Linked DNA regions of Homo sapiens. The protein of the gene in region 3 interacts with the protein of the main gene of each other region in a pairwise test. Each region holds a gene or a part of one and is shown on either strand. Other genes may lie near its edges. The genes, in order: GPN2, GPN1 and RPAP1.

The links.
Region 1: the proteins of RPAP1 (region 3) and GPN2 interact in a two-hybrid assay, tested with the Homo sapiens proteins (one study listed by BioGRID).
Region 2: the proteins of RPAP1 (region 3) and GPN1 interact in a two-hybrid assay, tested with the Homo sapiens proteins (one study listed by BioGRID).

The regions. Positions count from the first base shown.
Region 1 is NC_000001.11:26,883,620-26,887,369, reverse strand, and holds part of GPN2 (GPN-loop GTPase 2), read left to right. Parts: intron 1-1,236; coding exon 1,237-1,397; intron 1,398-3,079; coding exon 3,080-3,210; intron 3,211-3,750. UniProt on the Homo sapiens protein: Small GTPase required for proper localization of RNA polymerase II and III (RNAPII and RNAPIII). May act at an RNAP assembly step prior to nuclear import.
Region 2 is NC_000002.12:27,631,921-27,635,670, reverse strand, and holds part of GPN1 (GPN-loop GTPase 1), read right to left. Parts: intron 3,039-3,750; coding exon 3,001-3,038; intron 826-3,000; coding exon 747-825; intron 532-746; coding exon 437-531; intron 1-436. UniProt on the Homo sapiens protein: Small GTPase required for proper nuclear import of RNA polymerase II (RNAPII). May act at an RNAP assembly step prior to nuclear import.
Region 3 is NC_000015.10:41,542,708-41,546,457, forward strand, and holds the start of RPAP1 (RNA polymerase II-associated protein 1), read right to left. Parts: upstream 1,551-3,750; 5' UTR 1,512-1,550; exon of another isoform or gene 1,206-1,511; intron 1-1,205. UniProt on the Homo sapiens protein: Forms an interface between the RNA polymerase II enzyme and chaperone/scaffolding protein, suggesting that it is required to connect RNA polymerase II to regulators of protein complex formation.

The DNA.
Region 1 (3,750 bases), on a different chromosome or scaffold from region 3:
CTTTAGGATAGAGCTGCCAGGGAGCCCAGATACTTAAGTTTTCTGGGCAGAAACAGGCCACTAGGGGGAAGTCCAACTTACTTCTTTTAGTGAGAAATGATTTATAAAACTGAATCAGGGACCTCAGCATCATCTAGTCCTTATTTTACATTAAGAAATAACTGGCTCAGAAAAGGAAAGTGATTTACCCAGGAGGCTACCCTGCTAGAATGTAGCATTTATTCAGTTTAACCATTTACAGAGTCTTTGCAGTGTATGTGCCAGGTCCTGAGGGTATGACCTGACTATGAGCTCTGTGAGGTGAGGACGACCATGCACAGTTCTTGGTACATACTTGTTATCATTATTTGCAACTTTTTTTTTTTTTTTTTTTTTTGAGACAGAGTTTCGCTCTTGTTGCCCAAGCTGGAGTGCAATGGTGTAATCTCGGCTCACTGCATCCTCCGCCTCCTGGATTCAAGCGATTCTCCTGCCTCAGCCTCCCGTGTAGCTGGGATTACAGGCATGTGCCACCACGTCCGGCTAATTTTGTATTTTTTTTTCTTTTTTTTTGAGACGGAGTCTTGCTGTGTCGCCCAGGCTGGAGTGCAGTGGCGCGATCTCGGCTCACTGCAAGCTCCCCCTCCTGGGTTCACGCCATTCTCCTGCCTCAGCCTCCTGAGTAGCTGGGACTACAGGCACCCGCCACCACGCCCAGCTAATTTTTTGTATTTTTAGTAGAAACAGGGTTTCATCGTGTTAGCCAGGATGGTCTCGATCTCCTGACCTTGTGATCCGTCCATCTCCCAAAGTGCTGGGATTACAGGCTTGAGCCACCGCACCTGGCCTAATTTTGTATTTTTAGGAGAAATGGAGTTTCACCATGTTGGCTGGTCTTGAACTCCTGACCTCAGGTAATCACCCACCTCGGCTTCCCAAAGTGCTGGGATTACAGGCATGAGCCACCGTGCCCAGCCTGTTTGCAGTTATTGATCAAGCACTTCTCTGTACCAGACACTGGGGTTTATAGCATTTAATCTTCATAACAGTCCTATGAAGTAGATACCTGCCTATATAGCTAGTAAATAGCAGAGCCAGCAGGTAAAACCAAATGCTTTTTTTCTTAGTAACTTCATTTTACTGTGTCAAGAAATATTTGAGTGCATGAGTGCACAAAGGAAAAAAGGAAAAAGGAACCTCGTCCTCAGGTCTTTAGCCTGATACTGGTTGCTCCTGAACACTGGTTTCTCTCTTTAGCCTTCAACCTGGACTACTACACAGAGGTTCTGGACCTCTCCTACCTGCTTGACCACCTGGCTTCTGACCCTTTCTTCCGCCACTACCGCCAGCTCAATGAGAAGCTAGTGCAGCTCATCGAAGACTATAGCCTTGTCTCCTTTATCCCTCTCAACATCCAGGTACTAGGGGCTAAGACGGGACTCTTGACAGTGCATGGGATTCACCAAGCCAAAAGCACAGGAAGCTTTGAGGGCTTAAAGAATGGTCTTTGCCGGCTGGGCGCGGTTGCTCAAGCCTCTAATCCTAGCACTTTGGGAGGCCGAGGTGGGCAGATCATGAGGTCAGGAGATCGAGACCATCCTGGCTAACCCAGTGAAACCCCGTCTCTACTAAAAATACAAAAAATTAGCTGGGCGTGGTAGCAGGTGCCTGTAGTCCCAGCTACTCAGGAGGCTGAGGCAGGAGAATGGCGTGAACCCGTGAGGCAGAGCTTGCAGTGAGCCGAGACCACGCCATTGCTCTCCAGCCTGGGCGACAGAGTGAGACTCCATCTCAAAAAAAAAAAAAAAAAAAGAGTGGTCTTTGCCCTGGGTTGAGTATCACTGAGAGTAACCTTAGTTTCAGGACCAGGGGCTGCTGTAGGGGCAGAATTCCAGTAAAGAGAGTGGACCAAACTTTTGCCCTGTCTATTTTGTGTTGCTGGATCCTCTCTTCACATGTTCTGTCCTCTGTGAAAATGGGTGAGTTCAGAAAGTCATCAGCAAGAAAGTTCACCAGGACCAGGGACAAGTCTCTTAAGCCCTTTCAACTGGGCAACTGTCTGTTGACTTTGCAAAGTGGTACCCAACCCCTGTGCCTCTCACCTTTACCCTGCAGAGATAACCTGGGAGACGCAGGTGCATGTTAGATTCCTTTCTGCAGTGGGTGGACTTGAGCTAACTTGTCTCCTCCCTTCTAATGCCACACTCTTCTGATATGAGGAGATGAACTCTATAATATCAATCACAACAATTACCTCTTATTTATGGCTTTCTGTGCTGGGCACTGTGCTAAGGACTACACATACATAATTTTGCTTTGTCCTTCCCACCATGTGATATATGGACTGTTCTTATCACTGTATGTGGATGAGGAAACAGTTATAGTTTTTTTTTGTTTTGTTTTGTTTTTTGTGACGGAGTCTCACTCTGTCACCCAGGCTGGAGTGCAGTGCGTTATCTTGGCTCACTGCAACCTCTGCCTCCTGGGTTCAACCGATTCTCCTGCCTCAGCTTCCCAAGTAACTGGGATTACAGGCATCCATCACCATGCCCAACTAATTTTTGTATTTTCAGTAGAGACAGGGTTTCACCATGTTGGCCAGGCTGCTCTTGAACTCCTGACCTTAAGTGATCTACCTGCCTTGGCCTCCCAAAGTGCTGGGCTTTACAGGTGTGAACCACCGTGCCTGGCCCAGTTATAGATTTAAAACATGCATATTCATTGGATGTCTACTTAAGAGAAGTACTGTGCCAGGCACTGGGAATACTGCGACAGATGACCTGGCCCTAAGGGGTGTTTAGTTGAGTAGGGGAGGCAGGTGAGTTAATAGGCGTTTATTACATGGCAGGGATACCATGTACAATAGGTGTAAACCCAGGGGACTGTGGATATGCATAGGGGAGCTTATCTGTTCTAATCTGAGTGAGTTGGTGGTCAGGAAACATGAGATTTATCCAGCCTTTGGGGACATGTAGAACTACTCCAGGCCAAGAAAGCTACAGGTACAGAGGCAAGATGGAGGAAGGTGTATTTAGAGATTGCAAGCAGTTTTACATACTTCTGTTTCACTCACAGAACTGTTTCTCTCCTCCCTGCTCAGGACAAGGAGAGCATCCAGCGAGTCCTGCAGGCTGTGGATAAAGCCAATGGATACTGTTTCAGAGCCCAAGAGCAGCGAAGCTTGGAAGCCATGATGTCTGCCGCAATGGGAGCCGACTTCCATTTCTCTTCGTATCCTTGCCAGCTTCCTGGCCATAGCAGAGAGGGTGAGACATGGGACTCAAGAATGGCCACAGGAGGTGCAGTCATCAACCTTGTGGATGACCAATTTCTTTTTTTTTTTTTTTTTTTGAGATGGAGTCTTGCTCTGTCGCCCAGGCTGGAGTGCAGTGGCACGATCTCAGCTCACTGCAAGCTCTGCCTCCCGGGTTCACGCCACTCTCCTGCCCCAGCCTCCTGAGTAGCTGGGACTACAGCCACCCACCACCACGCCCAGCTAATTTTTTGTATTTTTAGTAGAGACGGGGTTTCACTGTGTTGGCCAGGATGGTCTTGATCTCCTGACCTTGTGATCCACCCAATTTCTTTTTTCTTTTTTTTTTTTGAAAGGGAGTTTCGCTCTTGTTGCCCAGGCTGGATCGCACAATGGCGCAATCTTGGCTCTGTGTAACCTCTGCCTCCCATATTCAAGCAATTCTCCTGCCTCAGCCTCCCAAGTAGCTGGTATTAGTGTGCGCCACTGTGCCCAGTTAGTTTTTATATTTTTAGTAG
Region 2 (3,750 bases), on a different chromosome or scaffold from region 3:
AATTTTAAAACATTTTTTGTAGAGACAGAGTCTTGCTATGTTCCCCAGCCTGGTTTCAAACTCCCAAGCTCAAACGATCCTCCCACCTTGGCCTCCCAAGTGTAGGGATGACAGACCCAGCCCAGAGGACTTTATCTTTAAACTTGGATTTTATCCAACTGGGAACAACTATCAGACAGTTCATATTCATACATCACCTTTTTGTAACAACAAGGGAGGAAGATCAGAGGGTATTGAGAGAGAATGCCAACAGCACATGTGCCTCTTTTCTCCTCTGACCTTCCCCAGCTCACAGCCACTCAACTGAACAGCAAATCTGAATGAGCACAAATCCAGGGGTAAGCAACCAGATTCAAAAAAAAAAAAAAAAGAGGAAGAAGAAGAGAAAAAGGCCTTATACCTTGATGGAACACTTTCCCCACCAACAATCAATTACCTGCAGGCATAGAGCATGTTGGACATGAAGGTCACTGGGTTGGTACTTCTCGATGTGTCCATTACATAGATGACAACTGTTGGAAATGAGGATGCCTAAAGCCACAAAAAAATCAAAGCCTTGGTCAGAGGGCTCACGATCTGTCCTCAAACTCTTTTTCCACCATCCTTAACAAGGGAAAACCACTTTAGGCAGGGTGTGCAGAGCTTCTACAACTTCCTCCCATATAAAGTCCAAGGCAATTAAAAATAAATGCTCATCCAGTCTAGCCCCTCTAGCTACTCTCAGTAGCAAGTCCTAGAATACTCACAAGGGCTTCAGTGATAATTGTCCCAGAAGCTGACCAGGTGAATACCTCAATCTGTCCAGGTGTGTCAATCAACACATATCTATGTCAAGAAAGATCATTAAAGAAGTGTTACATTTGTGTTATGCTGAAGGATATTCCATCATATAAGACAATAAACATCTGGTTATCCAAGACTGGAGTAACCTCTGCACACTGCCAAATCTAACTTCCTCCTACTGGCCCTAAACTGCACATGATGATCCCCTAGACTTTGTTCAATGACCAATATTCACGCCAATGGGCAGGAACAGCAGACCATGAGTTGCTGCAAATGATCACAGGGGAAACTTTTATAGAAACACAATGCATTTAAAATGAAAGACACAAAACCAGAATGTAAATCTCTTGGGAAACATCTGGTTGCTTAGGGCGGGGGTGAGTGTGGAACAGAGGAAGAAGAATGGGAGGAATGGGAAAGTGCTAGCTGAAGAATATCAGGTTACTTCTTGAGATGATGAAAATATTCTAAAATTGACTGTGGTGATAGTTGTACAATTCTGTGAATATACTAAAAGCCACTGAATTGTATACCTTAAATGGGTGAATTGTATGGTATGTGAATTATCTCAATAAAGCTGTTTTTATGAACTATATCAACTTTTTTGTGAATTAATTTGATATAATTATGAATTATATCAGAATTTTTTTAATTGGCAAAGAATTCTAATAGACATTTCTCTAAATATATACATACCAATGGCCAATAAGTACATTAAAAAGATGTTCAATATCATTAGTTATTAAGAAAATAAAAGTAAAAACCACAATGAGATACCACTCTATATCCACTAGAATGGCTATAATCAAAAACAAGAAGAATAACAAAAGTTGGCAAGGTTATGGAGGAACTGGTTGTGGAGAAATCATATTGCCAATGGGAATGGAAAATGGGGTAGTCACTAGGGGCTAAAGGGAACAGAAAATAAGGAGTGATTGGTAATGAGTATGGGGTTTCTTTTCAGGATGACAAAAATATTCTGAAGATAGTAATTATCAACACACGACTCTGTGGACAGACTAAAACAACCATACACTTTAAACGAGTGAACTTTATGGTATATGAATTATATCTTAATAAAGCTGTCATTAAAAAAAAAAAAATACCTCCAGGCCAGGCTCAGTGGCTCACACCTATAGTTCCAGCACTTTGGGAGGTTAAGCCGGGCAGATCACTTGAGGTTAGGAGTTTGAGACCAGTCTGGCCAACATGGTGAAACCCCATCTCTACTAAAAATACAAAAATTAGTCAGGCATGGTAGCAGGCCACCTGTAATCCCAGCTACTCAGGAGGCTGAGGCAGGAGAATCGCTTGAACCCGGGATGCAAAGATTGCAGTGAGCCAAGATCACACCACTGCACTCCAGCCTAGGCAATAGAGCGAGACTCCATCCCAAAAATACAAAAATACAAAAATTAGCCAGGTGTGGTGGCTCACACCTGTAGTCCCAGCTACTTGGGAGGCTGAGGTGGGAGGATCACCTGAGCCAGGGAGGTGGAAGTTACAGTGAGCTGAGATCACTACACTGTACTCCAGCCTGGGCGACAGAGCAAGACCCTGTCTCAAAACAAAACAAAAGCTACCTCTAGTACCCCATTTTTGTAAAAGCACTTTTATCCATTCATCCTTCTATCTGTGTATATAGAAATGTGGAATGCTAGTCGCTGAATGATGATGTTACTTCTAGTGGGAATCGGGGTGATGGTTTCATCTTATAAATATCATGCATGGTTTGAATTTTTATAAAACAATAAATTATCTTTTTTAAAAAAAGTAAACCTTGAACAACAGCTAACTGGGTAATGGCCATAAGAACAAATATTTCCTATTCTGACACTCTGTAAATTAAAAAATTTTCTCTGAACCATGTAGACTATATTCATTTAAATAAGAATTAGAAAGGTATTTCAGATACTTTAATGACAACAAGCATGGTTTCCCAAGAGAAGGCAGGTGGACAACTGAATTGGGACAAAGTCTCAAAAGAGCTCCTAAGAAGCCATGTAAATTGGGGATCAAAGTAATTGAGGATGAAATGATATTAAATTTAGCTCTATATTCTAAAGCATCTTAATGATTTGCCAATTTTTTTTTCACTCCTAATGGTTTCATCTCAATCTATATTCTTTCAGAGGCTGATGGTATCCCAGATCCTCCATGAAGCCTAGAAATATGTCAGCTACAGAGTAATAAATGGGTGTTACTGACATCACTTACTTGGACATGTTCTGGGCCTTCTCAATAAATTTCATCACCTAAAAGAAAAAGATGTCAATGACAACAAATTCCGATTTCAACACAAAATCACAGAGCCCTCTCCAGGGTGGCATACCTCACAGGCACTATCACCTACTGAATCCCTCAATCACCTACTGAACATTTGCAATCTTAGGACAACAAAGAATAAACAGGCTGAACTAAAGCAACACAGCCACATCAGCAGCACTCCAATACCATCTTGGGGCACAATCCAAGGATCTGAGAAGCTGAAGACTTTGATCTGTCAATGTCAAGTTGTTATCTCTTGTCAAAATGTTAACAGCCTGTCTCATGGCCTAACATCAGAGTATAAAAACCAGTGATTATAAAACACTCTTATGGAAGTAGGTGACAAAGAAAACCTAAAGAATGACAAATATTTATCACAAGTAAAATGCCCCATCATCTTTCCATTCCATGACTGCTAGTCCATCCCACTCCCAAATACCCCCATCCCAGCTTCGGGGTAATACCACAGGCAAAGAACAGGTCAAGAAAATAACCCAGGTCTTTTGGATTTTTATTAGCTGTCACAAATATTAAATTTGAAGTGTCTGACCATACTGATCACCTTCTCATAGTCTACTTCTCTGTCTGACAAAATGCCTACTTATTTTCTATATTTATGCTCAGGTTTGCTGCTCTTCTTTACCAATGTGATCAAGCTAAGGAATTTAAGAGTCACAGATTTTTACACAACCATATTAA
Region 3 (3,750 bases):
TGTAACATGAAGATAACTGTACCTACCTCCTGAATTAATTATATATATGTAAGAAGATTAGAACAGAGTCTCATACATGAAAGGACACAAACGCCAGTTATGATTCTTATTATTTATATAGCCAAAGGGCAGATAACCATATCTAATTGTTGGGCAGTCTGACCAACAAACAAGGAAAAAGTCTCCTACCCCAATGCCTACCCAAAGGCCCTAAGGAAGGCTGAACTAGATGAACTGAGAATCCATAGTATGGTAACAATTCACTCCTATAAGAGTCTACATAAGCAGAAACAATTCCTACTTATCCATGGATTCATGTGATCCAAAAGCAAAGTCCAGCTCACTTCATAGGGTGCGCCATACCTACATCACAAAGAGAGCCAGGGGGTTATGGGCACCAGTTTTGGAATCAATAGGCCAGAAGTCAAATACCAGTTCCGCTACTTACTAAATGCACTAAATGTGCGAAATTAGGCAAATTATCAATGCTGTCCTTTTTTTTTTTTTTTTTTTTTTTTTGAGACAGATTCTCCCTCTTGTTGCCCAGGCTGGAGTGCAATAGCACGATCTCGGCACACTGCAACCTCCGCCTCCTGGGTTCAAGTGATTCTCCTGCCTCAGGCTCCCGAGTAGCTGGGATTACAGGCGCCTGCCACCACGCCCGGCTAATTTTTTGTATTTTTTTAGTACAGACGGGGTTTCACCATGTTGGCCAGACTGGTCTCGAACTCCTGATCTCAGGTGACCCGCCCGCCTCGGCCTCCCAAAGTGCTGGGATTACAGGCGTGAGCCACCGTGCGCGGCCTCTATGCTGTCTTAAGTCCCATTTCCACAACTGTAAAATGTGAGTAACAGGTCCTATATAATAGGAAATGTGTGAGGATTTAAATGACTATACACGCAAAACGCCTAGCCCAGTGCCTGTTACTTATATAAATAAACCTCAGTAACAATTATTTTAGTCCTAAGTAAAGCCACCAGTGTGTTTCCCCACAAATCCAGCGCAGATTTGTCCAGAACCAATCAGTGCTAGAAGTGATAACATTTTCAGTTATTAATAGAATAAGAATGGGTTGGCCGGGCGCGGTGGCTCACGCCTGTAATCCTAAAGAGTAATGCCTAAAGAGTAACTCGTAAAAAAAAGTAGTCCTAACAATGGACCTCTGGGTTTATGTTGGCCTCTGAGGAGTCTCTGGGGCTCTTACATTGCAGCCTATCCTCCAGAGCCAGGATCCAATCCCGAGTCGGGACGCGTGACTGCCCTTACCGCTCAGGTCAAGGGCTCCAGTTAAGCCTCCTGGACCACCCAACTCTACAATGAGGAATCATCGAGTCGCAGCTTTCGCCGCCCGTTGAAGGGCCGTGCCCGAGATCTATGCACAGAGGAGGCCACAGTTGCTCCCTTACAGACCAAAGGCCCGCAGGCAGGTTCCAGCAAAGAAACTGGACACGCTACCCTGGGTCCTCCTCCCAGATCACCTGAAATCCGTCCCTCCAGCCCCGCCACCTACGTGCTCCAGGCCTGTCTGGGCGCCGCCATCTTGCCCCGCAGAGATCGCGTTTCCGCCGCCGCCAGATTCCAGCTTCCGCCCCGCAGCCCAGCCCCGCCTCTCCCGGTCTTATCTCGGAGCATTCTGGGCTTTGCTTGTTCAGTGCAGCGGACTGGTGAGCGCGGTGCTGCGCGGCTGGCGGTTTATTACCCCCACGTAAGCTCTATACCATCACCCAGAACACACATCCTTTTTTTTTTTTTTTTTTTTTGAGACAGAGTCTTGCTCTGTCGCACAGGCTGGAGTGCTGTGGCGCAATCTCGGCTCACTGCAACCTCCGCCTCCCGGGCTCAAGCGATTCTTGTGCCTCAGCCTCCCGAGTAGCTGGGATTACAGGTGCCCGCCACCACGTCTGGCTAATTTTTGTATTTTTAGTAGAGACGGGGTTTCACCATGTTGGCCAAGCTGGTCTCGAACTCCCGACCTTAGGTAATCCGCCCGCCTCGGCCCCCCAAAGTGCTGTGATTACAGGATGTGCCACCGCGCCTGGCCCACACATGCTTCTGATGTACAGCAGGCACAGCCCCTTCTGCACTTACGACACCCCTGGCAGGGACACAGCGTTCCTCAGACGTCCCTCTGCACTCACCAGCCAGTGTTACCACATCCCACATCCCAGCACCCACGCCCACGGCAGCACACAGAAACGTGGACACACACACACACCCCAACGTGACGAATGTGTTTATGGAAGAGCTAGAAGGTAACCATGAAAAAGGCCCAAGGAAAGAACACTGCCAGTGTGCACTGCAGAAATAGTGGTGGTGAGAAGAGAGGGAATAAAGCTTCCTTGCTAGCAAGGTTATCATCTTCTCCAGAATCTTGCCTTTGTTCATCCCACTCTCCCTTCTTGGAAATCCTCCCTCTTTTCCCTGCCACCCCTGTCTCCAAAGGATAACTCTTTAAGGCCTAGCTGGCGTCAACTCTAAAACCTCTGCCAGCCACGCCTACTCACCAAACTTTCCTTGGATTCACCTGGAATCTCACCGCCTGCACCAGTTGTGTGGTATGCTAAGAACACACTGCCAACTACCAACTGTCACCGGTTACCTTTTCACAGGCTTATGTCCTGTTCCCTTGAATAGACTGTCAGTTCCTTGTGGGCACCAGACCTTGTACTTTGCATCTAAATACTGAGCACCCAACGTGTTGCCATGCACATAGTAGGACCTTAAGTAAATCATTTCTAGACCAAAGGACATCATGGGGCAGCCAATGTTAGTCCAGTGGCTTTCCAACTTTAACAGGCACCAGAATCAACTGGAAGTCTTGTTAAACCAGATTGCTGGGGCCAGGCACAGTGGCACATGCCTATAATCCCAGTACTTTGGGAGGCTGAAGCTGGCAGATCACCTAAGGTCAGGAGTTCGAGACCAGCCTGACCAACATGGTGAAACCCCATCTCTACTAAAAATATAAAAATTAGCAGGGCATGGTGGTGTCCATCTGTAGTCCCAGCTACTCAAGAGGCTGAGCCAGGAGAATCACTTGAACCTGGGAAGCGGAGGTTGCAGTGAGCCAAGATGGAACCACTGCACTCCAGATTGGGCCACAGAGCCAGACTCTGTTTCAAACAAAACGAAACAGATTGCTGGGCCTCAACCTCTGAGTTTCTGATTCAGTAGGTTTTTCTTTTTCTTTCTTTTTTTTTTTTTAAGACGGAGTCTTGCTCTTGTCGCCCAGGCTGGAGTGCAATAGCATGATCTCGGCACACTGCAACCTCCTCCTGGGTTCAAGTGATTCTCCTGCCTCAGCCTCCCGAGTAGCTGGGATTACAGGCGCCCGCCACCATGCCCAGCTAATTTTTGTATTTTTAGTAGAGACGGGGTTTCACCATGTTGGCCAGGCTGGTCTCGAGCTCCTGACCTCAGGTGATCCACCTACGTCAGCTTCCTAAAGTGCTGGGATTACAGGCATGAGCTACTGCACCTGGCCTGTTTCAGTAGGTTTCCTTTTTTTTTGTGACAGAGTCTCGCTCTGTCGCCCAGGCTGGAGTGCACTGGCGCAGTCTCAGCTCACTGCAACCTGCACCTCCCGGGTTCACACCATTCTCCTGCCTCAGCCTCCTGAGTAGCTGGGACTACAGGCACCTGTCACCATGCCGGGCTACTTTTTTGTATTTTTAGTAGAGACAGGGTTTCACCGTGTTAGCCAGGATGGTCTCCATCTCCTGACCTCGTGATCTGCCCGCCTTGGCCTC